Regions from separate parts of the Homo sapiens genome. Here region 1 is linked to region 2. The links come from fine-mapping of genetic effects on gene expression. A gene starts in region 2. The other region holds a variant in brackets. All regions are shown on one strand. Distances are from middle to middle.

The links. PIP is the estimated chance that this variant, and not a neighbour inherited with it, causes the effect.
Region 1: its variant is the best candidate, but not a certain one, in a credible set for the expression of NPRL3 in whole blood (INTERVAL, PIP 0.78).

The regions. Positions count from the first base shown.
Region 1 is chr16:90,264-94,763 of GRCh38, reverse strand. NPRL3 (NPR3 like, GATOR1 complex subunit) reads left to right here. Exons shown (of 14, transcript NM_001077350.3): 10 at 1,439-1,545; 11 at 2,039-2,168. Among named protein-coding and RNA genes, the nearest start is that of MPG, 14 kb to the right of the region's middle. The variant A/G (reference allele first, on the strand shown) is at 1,937.
Region 2 is chr16:136,372-140,581 of GRCh38, reverse strand. It overlaps NPRL3 (NPR3 like, GATOR1 complex subunit), which reads left to right and starts at 1,909. Exons shown (of 14, transcript NM_001077350.3): 1 at 1,909-1,940; 2 at 2,248-2,432. The coding sequence starts at 2,315. RefSeq lists an enhancer at 1,980-2,029 and a silencer at 2,250-2,479.

The sequences.
Region 1 (4,500 bases), 46 kb after region 2:
TGGAGCTGAAACCTGCCATGTCGGGGTTGGCGGAGCCATTGGGGGCACTACTCGCACAATCTTGGCTCACTGCAACCCCCACCTCCCAGGTGCAAGCAATCCTCCTGTCTCAGCCTCCAAGTAGCTGGGACTACAGGCATGTGCCGCAGTGCCTGGCTAATTAAATAAAAATTTTTGGCAGAGATGAGGGTCTCACTATATTGCCCAGGTTGGTCTCGAACTCCGAGGTTCAGGCGATCCTCCTGCCTTGCCCTCCCAAAATGCTGGGACTACAGGCATGAGCCACTCACTCAGTCTGGAGGCCCTGTTTTCTGAGCTGAGGTATAAGTGTCCTCAGCAGCAGGGCAGCACGGTGTCCAGGCAGGGGTGACTCACCTCCACAGAGGCCTACCCGCCAAGAGGGTGGAGTGGTGTCCTGGGCTGATGCAGAGGCAGAAGTGCGAGAGCTTAGGATTTCACACACCTTTTCGTGAAGTGCTGGGGTGCTGTGCTCTCAGACCTCAGGCCTGAGCTTTCCTCTGGAAGGGGTTTGGGTTGTGTTTGTGTTTCCTGATGTTCAAGGGTCCACAAGAGCAAAGCTGGGAGGGGGGTCTCTGTGGGAGTCGGGGCACATGGGGCAGACCTGGGGCCTTTGGGTATGTAGGGGTGGCATGCTGAGTGACTCCACACCCATCATCGGGCAAGGCCATGCTGGAGTTTTAGGGGGTATAAGAGGGCTGTGCCCCTGCCAGGACATCCAGCTAAGCCCCCTGCCCAGCTGGGCCAGCACTGTGTTCCCAGCACCCCAGACATTCCCATGCTTGTGGCCTGAGACCACCATTCTTCAGTGGGAGTCAAGACAGCATAGGATGGGAAAACAGTGCCACCAAACAGCACAGGGAGCAGTGACAAAAAGGCCATTGTGGCCGGGTGCGGTGGCTCATGCCTGTAATCCCAGCACTTTGGAAGGCCAAGGTGGGTGGATCACGAGGTCAGATCGAGACCATCCTGGCCAACATGGTGAAACCCTGTCTCTACTAAAAATACAAAAATTAGCTGGGCGTGGTGGCATGTGCCTGTAATCCCAGCTACTCAGGAGGCTGAGGCAGGAGAATCGCTTGAACCTGGGAGGCAAGAGGTTGCAGTGAGCTGAGATTGTGCCACTGCACTCCAGCCTGGGCGACAGAGCAAGACTGTCTCCAAAAAAAAAAAAAAAAAAACCATTGCTCACAGAAAGTGCTGTGTGCTGGCTGTGCCCCACATCCTAGTGAGAGGTTGCGAAGGTGCTATTCCACGTTAGGGAGGAAGTCTCGGGCCATAGCCACCAGGTGTGTTCTGCATGAGGCTGGGGCCAGCTTCTCCAGGCTGGTAGGCCATGGCCACCCAGGCTGAGAGCTGCTGACAGCTCCCGGTGGGCCAGCCTCAGGCATGGTCCTTGCAGCTTCCCTTTTGCCTGCAGGTTTTCCAGCTTGCAGCTCATCTGGTGTACTGGGGCAAGGCCATCATCATCTACCCGCTGTGTGAGAACAACGTCTACATGCTGTCTCCCAATGCCAGCGTATGTCTGTGAGTGCTGCTGGCTGCCAGAGCCTGGAGCCCCGAGTGGGAAGGGGTGAGGCTGGCAGGGCCCTCCAGATGCTGTTCTCTGTGTTGGCCAGGCACCAAAGGCTGTGGAAGCCCCAAGGCCAGGCTCTCACTTCAGCCTAACTCCTGGCCACTAGCATACCCAGGTCCCAATTCTGGTCTGGCTCTGTGCTCTGTGGCTCTCCTGTGTCCCCCATATGCCTGGCCCCCTCCTCCAGGCTGGCTCTTCTAATCCACCTTGAGGGATCAGAGGTGAGATGCAGGATGAACTGTGCCCATGGCTCCTGCTGCTGCTCAAGGGGAAGTGCCCAGGCTCTGTCCACCTGGAGGCCTGCCTGGCCTCATACCGTTCTGCCCTCATCGCACTGTCCTG[A/G]CCCACCTGCCACACTTTGCTTCTCTGCTGCCCACTGAGGCCAGTGTTGAGAACACGGTGGGGGGGTCTGCTGCACTCACTGGCATGCTCACCTGCCTGCAGGTACTCCCCGCTGGCCGAGCAGTTCTCCCACCAGTTCCCATCTCATGACCTGCCGTCCGTTCTTGCCAAGTTCTCCTTGCCGGTCTCCTTGTCAGAATTTAGGAATCCCCTGGCCCCCGCTGTGCAGGAGGTGAGTCACAGAAGCTCAAGGAGCCCAGAGTGGCAGGTGTGTAGTGGATAGGCACTACCTGCCTGGCTGTTGGTTCTGATCTGAGAGCCCTCAGCACTGCCACCTGCTTCTCCTTGGTTTTGGGGGCTTGCCGTGCAAGTGCTACGTGCCCAGCAGGACCCAAAAGTCAGCTGCCGGGCCACCTGCAGATGCTTGGCCAGTGACCCAACACTTGAGCAGTTGTTCCCTCCCCATAGAGCCCACCCTGGCTGTGGCAGGCAGTTTTTAGTGTTAGAACCGAGTTAAGCAGGAGAGTGCTTACCTTTTCTGGGCCTACAGACCTGCCTTGTACCCCTTTGGGACTGGGGACTGCCTACAGATGAGGGTGCAAAGGCAGTTTTGTTCTCACTGGGCCAGGCCTGACCCTCTGAGAGTTCTGCTTCTGTCTTCACTCCCTGCCATGGTTCAGGTGGCCACAGGGTCTGTGGGTATGAGTTCTGGGGTCACTGGTCCCCAGAATCTCCTCATTCAAGAGAGCCTAGAGAGGACCCTAGTGGGCCTGGATCAGGGCAACGGGCAGGCAGGTTGGGAGCTAGGAGTGGCTGGGGGATAGGAGGCCTCCTGCAGGTCTGTGGGATGAACTGGTGCACCTGCATCTGTGGCAGGGCCAGTGGCTTCCCCTGTGGGCTGCAGGTGTCATAGCCTTGTGCTGAGGTGGCTTTGCCATCCTCCCCTCCACTGAGTTCTGGGCAGAGACTCAGAGCAGGGCCAGATAGGATACGGTGTTGGAGACAGACGAGCTGGGTGTTCTCAAGTCTTTGTCTCCAGAAGTATCTGAGTAAGTGCCAGATCTATTAGGCAAAACCAGTCCTTAAAGTTAAACCCTTTCCGTTCTCAAATTACGAATGAGAACGATTCTGGCTTTTCAGCTCCGTTAGACGCTAAACCTGACAGAGCTCTCAGTGCGGTCTTTCACAGAGCCCTTGGTTTCTGGGAGCTGAGCCAGGTTGTACCAGCTGAATAAAAGGCACTCTCTGCACCCCTGCTCTTGGGGCAGTGCTTAGGGAGGAGCTGCTGGTGCTCCCTTCTCAGAGGCCTCCTGTGGTCTAGATAACGGAGTGGCTTTTCCAGGCCATGACTGAGTGGTTGCTCCAGGCCTTGTCAAGGGGCCTAGGTCAGCCAGGTTCTGCCTGGGCTCCAGTGCTGGGAAGCCCCTCTGTTTTATTTTTGGTTTATTGATTTTATTTAATTTTGATTGCACGTCAGGCTGGAGTGCAATGGCATGATCTCGGCTCACTGCAACCTTTGCCTCCCGGGTTCAAGCAATCTCCTGCCTCACCCTCCCGAGTAGCTGGGTTTACAGGTGCCCGCCACCACGCCTGGCTAATTTTTTGTATTTTTAGTAGAGACGGGGTTTCACCGTGTTGACCAGGGTGGTCTCTAACTCCTGACCTCAGGTGATCCACCCACCTCATCCTCTCAAAGTGCTGGGATTACAGGCATGAGCCACTACGCCCAGCTTTTTTTTTATTGTTTTGATATAGAAACTTGCTTTGTTGTCCAGGCTGAAGTACAGTGGCGTGATCTTGGCTCACTGCAACCTCCGCCTCCCAGGTTCAAGTGATTCTCCTGCCTCAGCCTCCCAAGTAGCTGGGATTACAGGTGTGTGCCACCACACCCGGCTAATTTTTGTATCTTTAGTAGAGATGAGGTTTCACTGTGTTGGCAAGGCTGGTCTCGAACTCCTGAGCTCAAGTGATCCACCCGCGTCTGTTTTATTTCTTAAATTCATGTGAAGTCTGGATATCTTGCAGTCCTTTTGACCAAGTCTTCTTACTTGCCTGGGATATATCCCCCATTCCCATCCCCAGTTCCCCAGCCCCCTCCCAGGAGGTGACCCTGGCCAGCAGCTCCTTGTTGACCCTCCCAGAGATGAGTAGACAGATGTGTATCTGAGGACACTGATGTGTCTCACACTCCTTACTGTTCAACGCCTGAGTCTGGGCAGTACTTTCTCATGGGGACTGGACTCTACCTGGCACAAGGCTCCTCACTGCTCCTCACTGCCAGCCCCACCTGCTAACCCAGAGACATTGGAGGGCCTGGCCAGGACGTGCCTTCTCACGGTGGGGGTGGGGGTGGGGTGCTCCACCCCCAAGCCCAGGGTCACTGGCCTCAGCTTTCTTGTGGATCCACTCTTGTGCTCAGGGTGGACTTTCAGGTAGATCCAAGGAGAGGACTTTCTGCTCTCAGGGTACCTGCCCACAGCCTCTTTTTAAACAGTGTCTGGGCTTGTGTGGAGGTGGACTTGCTGGCTGGGTCCAACTCCAGGGCCAGTGGGCCAAAGAAGAGA
Region 2 (4,210 bases):
CCCTAGGATTGCTTCCACTTTGGGCTATTATGAATAATATTACTAAGAACACACATGTTTTTGTGTGGACATATGCTTTCATTTCTCTTGGCTATATATCTAAAAGGGGGATTTGCCGAGTGTTGTGTTAACTCTAACCTTTCAGGAACTGCCAGCCTGTTTTCCATAGCGAGTGTAGCCTCTTACATTCCCACCAGCAGGAGAGAGATTCCCGTTTCTCCACACCCCTGCTGACGCTTGTCTTTTTGATTACAGCCATCGTAGGAGGTGTGATGTGGCATCTATTTGTAGTTTTGATTTGCATCTCCCTAATGCCTAATAATGTTGAGCATTTTTAATTTCTGTTTTGCCCAGGCTGGTCTGGAGTTCCTGGCCTCTCAGCGCTGGGGTCACAGGCGTAAGCCTCTACCAGTTGAGCTGAGCATCTTCTGGTGCTTATTGGCCATTTGCATAATGCACTGGAAAAATATTCATATCCTTTGTGCATTTTTCAATTGTCTTTTTATTGTTGAGTTGTAAGTTTCCTCCATTCTAGATACAATTCCCTTATCAGATATGTAACTTACAAATATTTTCTCCCGTTCTGTGGGTGGACTTTTAATTTTCTTGATGGTGTCCTTTAAAGCACCGAAGTTTTTGTTTTGTTTTGAGATGGAGTCTCGCTCTGTCGCCAGGCCAGAGTTCAGTGGCACGATCTCGGCTCACTGCAACCTCCGCCTCCCGGCTTCAAGCGATTCTCCTGCCTCAGCCTCCCGAGTAGCTGGGATTAGAAGCAGGCGCCGCCAAACCCAGCTAATTTTTGTATTTTTAGTAGAGAGACGGGGTTTTACCATGTTGGCCAGGATGGTCTAGATCTCCTGATCTCATGATCTGCCCACCTCGGCCTCCCAAAGTGCTGGGATTTCAGGCGTGAGCCACCGCGCCCGGCCGCAGTAAAGTTTTTAATCTGATGAAGTTTAATTTATTCTTCTGTAGTCGCTCCTGCCTTTAGTGTCACTGCCTCGCCCAAGGTCTCAAAGATCTCCTGTCGGCTTCCAAGTGTTTTTTTTTTTTTTTTTTTTTTTTGAGACGGAGTCTCGCTCTGTCGCCTAGGCTGTAGTGCAGTGGCGCAATCTCGGCTCACCGCAAGCTCCGCCTCCCGGGTTCAAGCGATTTTCCTGTCTCAGCCTCCCGAGTAGCTGGGATTACAGGCGCCCGCCACCACGCCCGGCTAATTTTTTTTTTTTTTTTTGTAGAGACGGGGTTTCACCATGTTGGCCAGGATGGTCTCGAACTCCTGACCTCGTGATTCACCCGCCTCGGCCTCCCAAAGTGCTGGGATTACAGGCGTGAGCCACCGCGCCCGGCCTTTTTTTTTTCTTTTTTCTTTCTTTCTTTCTTTTTTTTTTTTTTGATACGGGGTCTCGTCGCTCTGTCGCCCAGGGTGGAGTGCAATGGCGTGATCTTGGCTCAATGCAACCTCCGCCTCCCGGGTTCAAGCGATTCTCCTCTAGGATTACGGGCGCCTGCCACCACGCCCGGATAATTTCTTCTAATTTTTAGTAGAGATGGGGTTTCACTATGTTAGCTAGGATGGTCTCGATCTCCTGACCTCGTGATCCGCCCGCCTCGGCCTCCCAAAATGCTGGGATTACAGGCGTGAGCCACCGCGCCCCGCCCAAGTGTTATTTGTAAAACGAAGAAACCAACATCGAGAGGGACGCTGACTCGACCCCGCGCCTTTCCCATCCGCACCAGCAAGAGGGGCCCCTGTGCCCCAAACGCGAACCGTACGGCTCCAGACAGCACCGCGGAACTCGGTGGCTTCCAGAAGGCCCCGCGCCTGCGCATTCCGCTGCCTGCGCCTGCGCCTGCGCCTGCGCCGTTCTCCCGGCCGCCGCCTTAGCACCTCCTCCGGACGGTGTCGCCGAAGTCTCGCGAGCCCGGAGCGTGGCACGTGGGTTGGTAACTGTGGCGCTGCTCCGCGTCCACCACCACCCCTGTCCTCCTCAGGCCCCCTCCGCCTCCACCCCTGCCCTCCTCAGGCCCCCTCCGCCTCCACCCCTGCCCTACTCAGGCCCCCTCCGCCTCCACCCCTGCCCTCCTCAGGCCCCCTCCGCCTCCACCCCTGCCCTCCTCAGGCCCCCTCCGCCTCCACCCCTGCCCTCCTCAGGCCCCCTCCGCCTCCACCCCTGCCCTCCTCAGGCCCCCTGCGTCCCCGCCTCGTCCTCCTCAGGCCCCCTCCGCCTCCGGCTCCGTCCTCCTCAGGCCCCCTCCGCCTCCGGCTCCGTCCTCCTCTGGCCCCCTCCGCCCCCGGCCCCGGCCCCACGGCGGGATGCGGGACAACACCAGCCCCATCAGCGTGATTCTGGTGAGCTCGGGGAGCAGGGGCAATAAGCTGCTGTTCAGGTACCCCTTCCAGAGAAGCCAGGAGCACCCGGCGTCCCAGACAAGTAAGTGAGCGCTGGGCGGGGGCCTGGCGCTCGCGGGGGCCGCCTCATTCCGGGGTCGCCTCATTCCAGGGCCGCCTCGCGGAGCTTAGCTTTTGCTGGGCATTCGAGATCTGCTCGTTGTAGAGTATTTGAAAAGTAGAAAAAGGAAAAAAAAAATTAAAATCATGCATTGTTCACCACACCAAAGCAACTACTGCTGACATTTCATCAGTCTCCAGCCTTTAAAAAATAAAGTAAAATAAAATAAAATGAGTTTGGGATGTATTCATCATGAGAAAATACAAAATTACACGAACAAGGCCGGTGGCGGTAATCCCAGCACTTTGGGAGGCCGAGGCGGGTGGATCACCTGAGGTCAGGAGTTCGAGACCAGCCTGGCCAACATGGTTGAAACTCTGTCTCTACTGAAAAAATAAAAATAAAAAAAAACAAATTAGCCGAGCGTGGTGGTGCGTGCCCATAATCCTAGCTACTTGGGAGGCTGAGGCAGGAGAATTGCTTGAACCCGGGAGGCGGAGGTTTCAGTGAACCGAGATCGCGCCACTGGATTCCAGCCTGGGCAACAGAGCAAGACTCCGTCTCAAAAAAAAAAAAAAAAGTTACGTGAACATCTGAAGTTGTCTTTGCCACCCCCAGTTCTAGCAAGCACAGGGATCACCCCTGGCCGTGTTGGGAGTTGTCTGCCCTGTGCATAGATGCAGATCTATCCACAGGAAAAGGGAACGTCGCGTGAGGTTTTTCATCGCACGAATTGTTCTGTGGCGCCCTTTTCCCATAGTCGGCCTTGGAGCTCCGTCTGCCTTTGCAAGCAGGGATCAACCTCACCCTTGGCTGCAGGCTGCTGCCTTCCCCTGTGGACGGCATGTAGGTTACTTTTGATTTTTCATCATCATGAATGTTCAGTTTTTGTTTTTATTTTATTTATTTTTTGAGACGGAGTCTCACTCTGTCGCCCAGGCTGGAGTTGAGTGGCGTGATCTCGGCTCACTGCAGCCTCCACCTCCCGGGCTCAAGGGATTCTCCTGCCTCAGCCTCCCAAGTAGCTGGGGCTACAGGGCATGTGCACCACACCCTGCAATTTTTTTTTTTTTTTTTTTTTTTTTTAGTAGAGATGGGGTTTTGCCATGTTGGCCAGGCTGATCTCGAACTCCTGGCCTCAAATGATCTACCTGCCTCGGCCTCCCAAAGTACTGGGATTACAGGTGTGAGCCACCGCACCCGGACTGTTCAGTTTTTATTTTGTATTTTGTTTTAAAATTATTTTTAAACTTGTTGATATGGCAGAAAGTTTTAAAGATACAAAGGAGTTTAGATTATGAAAAGAAAGTTCTTTCCTACTATTGGCCCCCAGCCCTCAGTTTCCATCATAGGGGTAACTACTGTTCCCATTTTTCTGTGTCTTTCCAGGACCTTCTGTGTCAATACAGGCGTATGTATTTCTTTTTTCTTTTTTTTTTTTTTTGAGACGAGTCTTGCAGTCTTGCCAGGCTGGAGTGCAGTGGCGTGATCTCGGCTCACCGCAACCTCCGACCCCCTGTCAAGCAATTCTCCTGCCTCAGCCTCCCGAGTAGCTGGGACTACAGGCATGCGCCACCATGCCCAGCTAATTTTTTTTTTTATTTTTAGTAGAGATGGGGTTTCACCATGTTGGCCAGGCTGGTCTCCAACTCCTGACCTTGTGATCCGCCCGCCTTGGCCTCCCAAAGTGCTGGGATTACAGGCGTGAGCCACCGCGCCCAGCCTGCACTTGTGTTTTTTTTCTAAGCACAAGCAAAGTC